Linked DNA regions of Homo sapiens: region 1 is linked to region 2. Evidence: fine-mapped expression QTL. A gene starts in region 2. The other region holds a variant in brackets. All regions are shown on one strand. Distances are between the middles of the regions.

Evidence for each region. PIP is the estimated chance that this variant, and not a neighbour inherited with it, causes the effect.
Region 1: its variant is the best candidate, but not a certain one, in a credible set for the expression of SLC67A2 in whole blood (TOPMed, PIP 0.62).

The regions. Positions count from the first base shown.
Region 1 is chr2:102,712,590-102,717,951 of GRCh38, reverse strand. SLC67A2 (solute carrier family 67 member 2) reads left to right here. Exons shown (of 6, transcript NM_032718.5): 6 at 1-3,322. Among named protein-coding and RNA genes, the nearest start is that of SLC67A2, 22 kb to the left of the region's middle. The variant A/G (reference allele first, on the strand shown) is at 2,776.
Region 2 is chr2:102,733,793-102,739,153 of GRCh38, reverse strand. SLC67A2 (solute carrier family 67 member 2) reads left to right here and starts at 2,266. Exons shown (of 6, transcript NM_032718.5): 1 at 2,266-2,508. The coding sequence starts at 2,344. It also overlaps a transcript of TMEM182 not described here. RefSeq lists a silencer at 2,150-2,359.

The sequences.
Region 1 (5,362 bases), 21 kb after region 2:
TAGGAGGGAGTTTTCTATCAAAATCCTGCAGATTGAAGAAGCTGGTTTATTAGAACCAGCCTGTCGCTTTTCAAAGCTGCTTAAAAATAAGATACTGACCTCACCCCTAGAGATGATTCAGTGGGCCTGGGTGGGGCCAAGAAATCCGTGGTGTTTTGTAAGCACTGCTGGCGATTTCTCATGGCAGTAAAGACCACACTGAGACTGCACTGATTTTGATTAAAGTACATAGGCTTGGCTGTTTTTACACAGCTAACTAAATTTGGACTCTTAAAATTGTGTTTGTAATCACAGTGTGTTACACCTTTCCCAGCTCTCAGCAGTTGTACTGCATGATGGAGCAGCGGGCCCCTGGGACCTGTTCCCTGTGCTCCCTGCCTCTGAGAGCCCAGCTTGCTCTGAAGTTGGACTAAACCACTTAGATGCTGGGGTTGCCACAGCCTGCTCCTGGAAGCCTGCATTCCAGTCAGGTTGCATCCTTCTGGTGCTGACAGAACCCAGTGGTGAAGCCAAAGCACAGGAATGCTTTAAAAATGAACAGTTTATGCAGAATAAGGGTCAGGAGTCATGCCAGACCAGAACTTGATGCTACTGTGTCTTGTGTTAAGAATCATTTCCTGGCCAGGCTCGGTGGCTCAGGCCTGTAATCCCAGCACTTTGGGAGGCTGAGGCAGGTGAATCACTTGGTCAGGAGATGGAGACCATTCTGGCTAACATGGTGAAACCCCGTCTCTACTAAAAATACAAAAAAAAAATTAGCCGGGCGTGATGGCGGGCGCCTGCAGTCCCAGCTATTCGGGAGGCTGAGGTAGAATGGCGTGAACCTGGGAGGCGGAGCTTGCGGTGAGCCAAGATTGTGCCACTGCTCTCCAGCCTGGGCGACAGAGTGAGACTCCGTCTCAAAAAAAAAAGAATCATTTCCTTTATTTTTAGTTTCACGCCTGCAAACACAAGCATTCTGTTGATCAACGGAAATATTTTGATGTGCCATTTCTTGTCTAAACAAGTTTCATATACAGCACCGAGGGGGCCACGAGAGGCAGAGGCCCAGACAGAAGGTGAACATAGCCTTGCAGGGAGACATATGCCAGGCAGGATGACCATTGGGATTGCATCAAGTATTAATCAGTTACTTAAGGGCTTCCTGTCAGACAGTTGAAGTTCACATTCCTTTTACTTTTCTTAATTAGTCCACTAGGATGGTATGCCTGTTTTCAACTTAACACATGCATACTTGTAAATATTTTAGTATGCTACAGTAATTTGTCATATCTTTAATATTTATTGTTTGTAAAGCAGTAAACATTTCTGTATTTTAGAAGTCATGGAGTAAAATCAAATATTTATGATAAATAATTGGAAGTATGTTTTAGTTTGAAGATTGTCCTTTTTCCTATCTTGCTGCAAGGAAAAATGGACTTCTGATTAGGTTTTACAATTGTGAACTTTTATGTAAATGTTAAGTGCTTTCGAGGAGACCAAACTATTATTAATATATAAAATGGCCTTGCCCTTAAGGAGCAAATTAAATCTCATGGAGATTAGACTCAAAAGGCAATAAATAATCGAGGGTTTATGCAATGAAATAGAATTTCAGAAGAGTTTGGATCTCAAAGATTGTCCTTCACTCTCAGAAACAGGCAAGTTTCTTAAAAGCCCTTATAGTCGTGTTTTTATTTTAAAAATCGTAGCACTTTATTTTTGAAGTTTAAAAAGCCCATAAACTTAATGAGTCTTTATAATCAGACACATGGAAATATAGAAAACCAAAGACTGATCTTAGAATATAGAGTAGAGAGACATGTTTGTTATTCTCCACTAGTGACTTTAGTATTTTGTTATGTGATGTTTTTTAGGTGCACCTTTTCTCATGACTCCTTTTACTTTATCTAATGTCTTCCTCTTTAAAGTGTGACCCAGAGACCAGTAGCATCAGCATCACCTGAGACCTGTGAACACTGAAGCTCCAGCTCAGACATGTTGGGGACCATTTTAATAAGATACCTAGCTGATTTTTTGCACAGCAAACTTTGAAAACCCCTGGTCTAAGGGGTAGTATTTGTATCACTTATGGAATATAATCTCAGGGAAATTAAATCTGCTCAATTGACATTTGTGGTGTTTCATTTTTTAAATTCTCTTGAGTAACTTCTGTAGCCCTTTCCAGTGTGTCAGGTTGAGCCACATGAAGTTGCTATTTTTGTAAGTCAAAAATATCTTCATAGGGTGCAACTCACTATTCTATGGAATCTTATTTTAGGAGTATTGAACCTTCCTGAAATGTCTTTGAAGGAAGTGTCACCCTTTCCAACACTCTGCCAGCCATAACTGCTTGGGAACAGGTCTCCAGGATTTGGGTTCCATAGAGCAGAAGGTAGGCCTCTGCCCTCATGTCTAGAGGGATGAATAACATTCTGAAAAGGTACAGGGTGTGTCTAGTCACAGGAGTCACCTGCAAGGCTCCAAACTCAGGCTGGATGGCCCCTTGGGGAGTGAATTCTGCAAGAGTTGCACCTGGGGCCAACAGAAGGAGCTGGAATCACTGATTCTGTATCCTGGCTACATGCCTTAGACCACAGGAACCAGACTCTGAAGCACCACAGATGTTTCTGTGAACATCTGGAGTTGGGAATCACTGAGTTAGATCAAGAATGGATTCGGCTGCCATGCTCGGGTTGAGATTGTATTGACGGATGAAGGGGAATGACGGAAGAATTCCTGCGGTAAAGTGCTGTGAAGACACTCCTGTTTTAGAAAGAGCTCTCTAGCCGCAGC[A/G]AGGAGGATTAACTGGAGGCCCAAGGAGTAGTCTGGACTTTGGGGCAGTAACTTTAGGGGGGCCCTGAGGGAGAGCTGGTCGCGAGGACAGGGACAGCAGGCAGAGGTTGTGGCCCACAGGGCAATCGCAGGAGAGGTTGTGAATAATTCCCAGGTGATGAGTGTGCAGCTTTGAGGAATTTCAAAGGGTTGCTTGGCGTCTTTTCCTGAAGACACTTCTATAAGGTATTTAGAAATCTATCAGGAGTGAGAATCAGTCCAGTCAGAAAATTTTAGGCATTTGGGCAACTGCATTCAGAAAACAGCTATTTATTTGGAATGCATAATAAAAGCCATGAGACTGAATCTCCATGCCTCTTTGCCCCCTAGTAGCCTTCAAGAAGTCTCTAAAACAGGGTTACCACAGATTTAGCCAGGATGATGTGTAGCAGCTTTTCTTGGAACAGGTTGATGGATTAAAATAACTTTTTTTCAGCTCTAATGTTTTTTTCTTGAATTTGCCAGTCACATGATAATTTTCTTCAAAAATAAAACTTTATAATTGTAATGAGGAACTGTCATTTATTCTTATAAGTTGTATTTTTAGAAGTCACTGATGTGTCTTGCTACATATTTCAATTCAGGATCCAGAAGTGCTTTGAAAAATGTCATCTCCAGTATGCTAGAACACATCTTAATATTAAAAACAAGGCTTTGGCTTTTAAAACCATTATGCAGATACCAAATATATATGTAATCTGACATTTATACTGAAGGCCAGTAAGTAGAGGACAGTTGATCCTTGAACAACACAGGGGTTAGGAGTGCCAAGCCCCCAAAACGGTAGAAAATTTGAGTGTAACTTTTGACTCTCTAAAAATTTACTACTAATAGCTTACTGTTGACATGAAGCCCTACCAACAATATTAATAGTCGACTGACATGTATTTTGTGTGTTACATATATACTGTATTTTTACAATGAAGTAAGCTAGAGAAAAAATGTTAAGAAAAAGAAAAATAATATTATTAAGTGGAAATGGAATCATAAGGGTCTTCATCCTTGCCACCTTCATTTTGAGTAGGCTGAGGGGGAGGAGGAGAAGAAGGGATTGATCTTGCTGTCTTAGGGGTGGCAGAGATGGAAGAAAATCCCCGTTTAAGTGGACCTGTATAGTTCAACTCTGTGTTGCTGAAGGGTCAACTGTACTTTTAAGGTAACATCTCACAGTAGGATTTATTTCTAGTTAAGCAGATGCACAAATACTTAGATCTCTCATTTTTCCCAAACAGGTATCTAAACACCATTTTATAGATAGCTGTCTACTAAAACAATAAAAGCAAAACTTCTGTTTTCCTGTTTCAGTATATTATAAGAAACGTTTATTTATGAGATGGAGTCTCACTCTGTTGCTCAGGCTGGAGTGCAATGGCACAATCTTGGCTCACTGCAACCTCTGCTTCCGGGTTCAAGCAATTCTCCTGCCTCAGCCTCCCGAGTTGCTGGGACTACAGGCACGCGCCACCACGCCCAGATAATTTTTGTATTTTTAGTAGAGACAGGGTTTCACTATGTTAGCCAGGCTGGTCTCAAACCCCTGACCTCAGGCGATCCGCCCACCTCTGCCTCCCAGAGTGCTAGGATTACAGGCGTGAGCAACGGTGCCTGGCCACTGATTCTTATTTTTAAAAGTGACTTAACACAGCTTGTATTGTTCCTTCCAGGGAGAAGATAATTATAAACATTAAGGAAGGAGTGTTAATTATTGCTGATAACTTACACAGCGTAAGAATGAACTGTAAGGATCTTGTTTGAACAAAGAATTGTATTTTGATCAGTCTTTATACTACATCTTGATACAGTTCTTTTTTCTAAGCATCCACTGTAGAGGAAGAAAGTGGTTAAAATACCTATTAATGATTGCAACTTATAACATGGATAGGAGACAGTCTTCCTTCAAGCTTACCAAAGAATCTCCATGCCATTTTGAGTAGTTGAGACACAGCCTCTTATCCAGACAGAACTAGTTTTTTGTGTGATAGCTTACCTACCTAAACCTGTCCCAAGTTTGCTTAATGAAATTGAAACCACATGAAATATCCAAAGCAAACCTAATAAAGGTGTTCTGCCGCTGACTCGGGCTGGACCCTTGTGGGGCTGTATGTATGCGACTTGGTAGGTGTTTGCCTTAAGTAGTCTGTTCTGTGGGGCTGAAGCATAGGCCTGGCCATCTCAAAGCCTAACATCTGTCAGGCCCAGTCTGTGACGTCACTGACAAGGGTGAGCATTTTCTTTGGGGCACCTTCAAAGTACCTTCACTGTGCATCTCTTTGGAGTGAATAGCACTGAAAGCATGATGAACTGTTACTGCCATTCAAAATAACTTTCTAGCTAAAGGTCAGGACTTAAACTAAAGGTTCAATAGTAAGACATAGTTATGGTAGCAAATCTATTATTTATTAATCAGATGCCAAACTATGTATTCATGGAAACCTAAAATTTGATGTGTTAATACACATCTTTGCATAATCTTTAAAAATTATTAAGGCAATAATTGGAATTAACTTCTTTTCTTTACGTTTGCATGGGAAGGCCGTATTTAATATTT
Region 2 (5,361 bases):
GATAATCTGGAAATCTTTTCCTCATATAATCAGAGAGCTTATCTTAAAGGTGGTATCCTCTATGGCTATACCTGGCCTACAAAAGAGAGCAATCGCAAATCTTTTCAAAACTGCAAGTGCATCTCTCACTAATACATTCCTCAGTGCCTTAGTGCAGGAAGTGTCGTCTTGGCCTCTTCGTGGAATATATTTGAGTATTAGGCTTGCAAGTCATACATAATAAATCCACTCTGACATTGTCATTTTTCCAAAACTTTTGGAGTCCTTTATCCACATTTTGCCAGGAAAACTCTGGCATCTGAACATCATTAAATATAGGCCATCTTTGAGTCTAAATTTCAACCAACTGACTAAACTACTAGAGCTGCCTCCAGCTGCACAAGCTAACATATTACATCGGTATATGTTGTAAATGCATCTATACTAGTGAATTCTGCCTAATTTAGTGTTATATTATTCCCTTTTTTTGTCTGACACCCTTAGAAATCTCTCCCCCAGGTTTCTAAAGTTTACATTGATTATATATTAGCAGAGACTTCCAAATCTTTTATTATTATTATTTTTACACAGAGTCTCCCTCTGTTGCCAGGCTGGAGTGCAGTGGGGCGATCTCAGCTCACTGCAACCTCTGCCTCCCGGGTTCAAGCTCTCCTGCCTCAGCCTCCCAAGTAGCTGGGACTACAGGCGCGCACCACCACGCCCAGCTAAATTTTTTGTATTTTTAGTAGAGACAGGGTTTCACCATGTTGGCCAGGATAGTCTCGATCTCTTGACCTTGTGATCTGCCCACCCTGGCTTCCCAAAGTCCTGGGATTACAGGTGTGAGCCACCGCGCCTGGCCGTGACTTCCAATTCTTTTGGCGTGTATGAGATGTCCTCCTAGGTTATAATGTGTACCTGTCACCAGAGCATGCTAAAATTTCACCCTAGCTATGTATTTAGTAGCCACAGTGAGTGGTTTTAATGGGTTAACATGAGCAGCCCTTTCAAGGCGCCTTTCCCAGATGAGTTACTCACAAAATTTCAAGCACAAAAAGACTAGTTTCCTCAGCTATAGGAGAGCAAACTAGTTCTCCTGCAAAGGAGTCTCAGAATAACTTGGGGGTTCACGATTGACAGTTTCACCTGGATTCAATTATATGTCTTAATTCTAAGTATCAGTATTCCACTTCTCCCTATTCAGTGCCACCTCCCATGAGAAACTTTGCAACACTGAATTTAACAGATCTCAGAATTAGCAACCTACACAAGTAAATTGAGATTTTGAGCAAAATCTCAGTAAAATGTCAGAGTCTTCTTGATCCCACAGTGAAAGAGGAATAAATAACAAGTTCTAAAGAAAAGAGGGGCTAGTCACTATTGTTAACATTTATTACTTACCATGTGTCATGGGCTTTGCTAAGTAATTTAAAGGCATCTTTTGGTGTCATGCACTCACTTAATTCCTTTCACTGCACTCAGAATAAACCCCAAATCTCTGTTATGGCCTTCTGGGTCCTAAATGGTCTGCACTCCTGCTGACCTCTCAGTTTGATGAGGAAGTTTCAGCCACACATATCTTCTTTCCACTCTTCTCAGCTTACATGTCACCTCCTCCAAACTGCTTTTCTAAAGTAGCTCACTCCCCACCTCATTACTTTCCACATCAAGACCGTGCTTCTTTATATTATCACCATATTATTTTACTTATTTTATGCTTTTTCATTGCATGTTTAGTATTTTTATTTATGTTTATTTACTGCGTGCTTATTATTTTTACTCCATGAGACTGTAATCTCAACTCAGGCATAGACCATCTATGGTTTGTTCACATTGCACTGCACCAGAAAGGATCTTAAGAAGCATGTGTAGAATTCTCACACCTCTAGAAGTTGGACTACATTATTTCCTACTGCTTTTTAAATAGGCAAACGAAAGCTTGGAGAGCCACGTTAACGTATCCTAGGTCTGTCACAACCAACTGGTGGCCAGGGTCTGTGGATCTTCAAGCTGGAGTTGGTCACCTCCTAGCACAACTCCATAGGAGGAAGTGAAGCTCAATACAATTCCCTCCTGTCCTCCAACGATAGGGGCAGCAGGGTCTGTACCCAGAGGAAACAAAGAGCATCATCATTATCATCACAAACTGGTGTGTGCTTACCGTATTGATGATGTGCCCAGTCCCCACCTTGCCTGAGACCAGAACTCCCAGCCAGCACCGGCCACGCACCCGCGGAGCTGCCAGGTAGCACCCGCCCCCTCTCTCTGCGCAGGCGCGCGCCTCCTGCTTCCGCTCGGGGCGGGGCTGGGCTCCCGGGGTAGGTCCGCGGCTGCTGCTGCGTCCGACCCCCGGCCGGCGCGGGTATGGAGCTTGGGGGTCACTGGGACATGAACTCGGCCCCGAGGCTGGTCTCGGAGACCGCAGAGCGGAAACAGGAGCAGAAGACAGGAACCGAGGCGGAGGCTGCCGACTCCGGTGCCGTCGGAGCCCGCCGCTTCCTGCTCTGTCTCTACTTGGTGGGCTTCTTGGTGAGTGCGAGCGTGGGGGCTGGGAGCAAGTGCTGACTGTGTTCGGGCCTGGGGACCCAGGCGGTTCTTGGAGCTTCCGGGGAGCTCCCAGGGAGTGGGAACCCGCAGTCCGCCTGGTGAGTGCCTCACTACCTATCAAGCTCTCCTCTTGCCCTATCACCCACTTCAGTCTGCATCTGGCCACACTGCTTTATTGCCCCTCGCGCTTTCTCTTGCACCCCGTTCGCGGAACGTCTTCCCTTCCCTGCCTTTTGAGAAGCCCTGGTACCAACCTCAGGTGTGACCAGGTGTTAAATGCTGTGGCAGGTGCAGCTTTTGCAGGGCGGAGAACAGGGGTGTGGGCAAGCTTGGAAAAGCCCAGCTGCTGTGCGGCTGCTGGTGAGGTAGGGACACGCAAGCCTTTTTACCAGAACAGGCAGGGGAGGCCGCTCTTGACCCCGCTTGGACAGATTTAGGCACATTTTCACTAGGATTCTTGGTTGACTTAAATATTAAAAAATGCAGATCAGAGTGAATTTTACCCATCTGCCTTTCGACAAACTGCGCATTGCACAGCGTAGGTTTGGTTTCATCATGATGTGTGTGCCTGTGGTTTGCTTTTTTACCAGACCAGGCTGGAGAAGCCGCTGTTGATGACCCCACTTGTACAGAATTGGGTGCATTTTCACTAGAGCTCTCGGTTGACTTGAATGTTTAAAAATGCAGATCAGAGTGAATTGTACCCATCTACCTTTGGACAAAGGGTGTGCATTGCACAATGGCGGTTTGGTTTCATCGTGTGTGTGTGTGTGTGTGTGTGCGCGCGCGCGTGTCCTGGTTTGCTCCCTGAGTGCTAATTTCCCACGTAGAATGGAAAGTTTAGTAAGCTGATTCATGGCATTTCTGAACACCTGCCATGTGGCAGGTGCTGCGGAGCTTCACTATTGTAATCCACAGTTCTGCCACAGAAGAATTCAGTCTTACAAGTAAGCTGATGTTGGTAGTTTCTGGGCCATTATCTGCAAGAACCCTAGATCCACCTCTGCACTCCTCCCTTTCCAAGGCTAGGCCTGATTCAGCCCTGAGTGTGAGCTAATCCAGTATCTTGAGGGTAAGGAAGCTGCGATAAGTGTCAATGGGAGAAGGCTGCCTTTGAGGCCTTGAAGATAGTATCTGATGGCACTGGGCCCTGGCAGGGAGTCATCGTTTTCTGCCCAGATGCAGATCAAGACCACCACTTCTCCCAGTTTCATGCACTCTCCATGCCACCACCTCCATGCAAGGCGTTCAGTTGGTAGCAACTCTATGTTGAGTTAATAGTTAAGATCACCATGAAAGCATGTTCATCAAATTGCTGCAAGCCCAGAAACACAAGGTCTTCAGGGAGGGCGGCTTTTTAGAGAGGATTTCTCTGCCTCTAGGCCATTGCAGGATCCACCCTCCAGCTCCATGCCTTTAACTTCAGAGACTGGCACTCCTTCTGACCACTATTCCTTTAATCTAGTAGTTCATTCTCAGCATGGGGATGCTTCTTCTACTTTTCAGTCTAGGCACCTAGAATTCACAACCAGTGAGTATGGGTGGTTCTTGGAGAGGAGTTGGCTGACATCCAGCCTTTTTAGTTATGGGTCCCAAGCTACTGCTGTCCTGTCTCAGAAGGGACTTGGGCTGGTTCAGCCAGATGAAAACATTTGAGCCCTTACCTGGAAAGTCCAGACTAGGGTTCAGAGAATTTGACTTAGAATTCAAAGTAGTTTTAGTATTAGAATAAAACAAAGCAATTCGCAGATCATTTGTTAAGGTCAGCCTTCCAATACAGATTTGAATATTCACAATTTATCATATGTTTTCTTTATGCTGTGTATTTGGCAAGTCTAATCTAGCAAGCCTGATACAGAATTTTAATAACTTTAATAATGTATTCAAGAGAACCATTAGGTGTCTCATATCTTAAGGGAAAAGTTTATGGTTTCCCAAAAGTTGAAAGAGTAGGGATTTTTTTAATGGAAAATATTGTAAACAATTAAATATATGAAGCTTTACATGAAAGTCACATAAAGCTACCTAACAGATGATTGTTAGGTAACATCTAAGGAACATTATACATAATTTAGTTTTTTTTTGACATATTTAGGGATGTAGAGACCTCTAAGATTCTTGGACAAATGGTTTCTGAATGGGAGAGGAAGGGAACAAGCTTAGAGAAGTCATTTGCCAAATTGTTCTGTTTTAGCAGTTATCCGTACTTCCAAGTTTTAATTTGTTTAGGAGGGAAGACCAAGATGACCCTTGAGGCCCGTTTTGTTTAGGATGCTTAGATGGTGATGAGATCTATTATTTCAACCACTTTTTTCCTCCAGATACTTGGTGAGATTTGTTTTCCATCCCATCAGCTTTATTCAGGTGATAATTCATTTTCATTGAGATAGTCCAGTAATCAATAATTACTGGGGTTCCTACCCTGAAAAGAGTCTTGAAACTTTTGAGTGTACATATTCATCAATTTTTATTGAAAAATGTTGATATTCAGTGAAAGTTTAAGTGGCCCCTTCTGACATGATCTTTTTACAAGTGGTTACATGCACATGACCAGATGCCAAATGCAGCGATTTTGAAGAAGCTATGGATTGAGAAGCAGAAAGGAGTTGCCTTTTATAGTAAAGGAGAAGGCAATTTTAGAACAGAACTTCCTGAGAGGAAAGATTCAGTGGCCAGTCTCCTTGGAAGAATATAGTACTTTTCAGACTCACCAAGTGCTAAAGTAATACCAATCATCAGTTATTGCCTTTGAGTCTGTATTTTCATACTTACCTTCCATAGAGCTCAGTCTCTTGACCTAAATATTTCTCTCCATCTCTTATTTAGGATACCCAT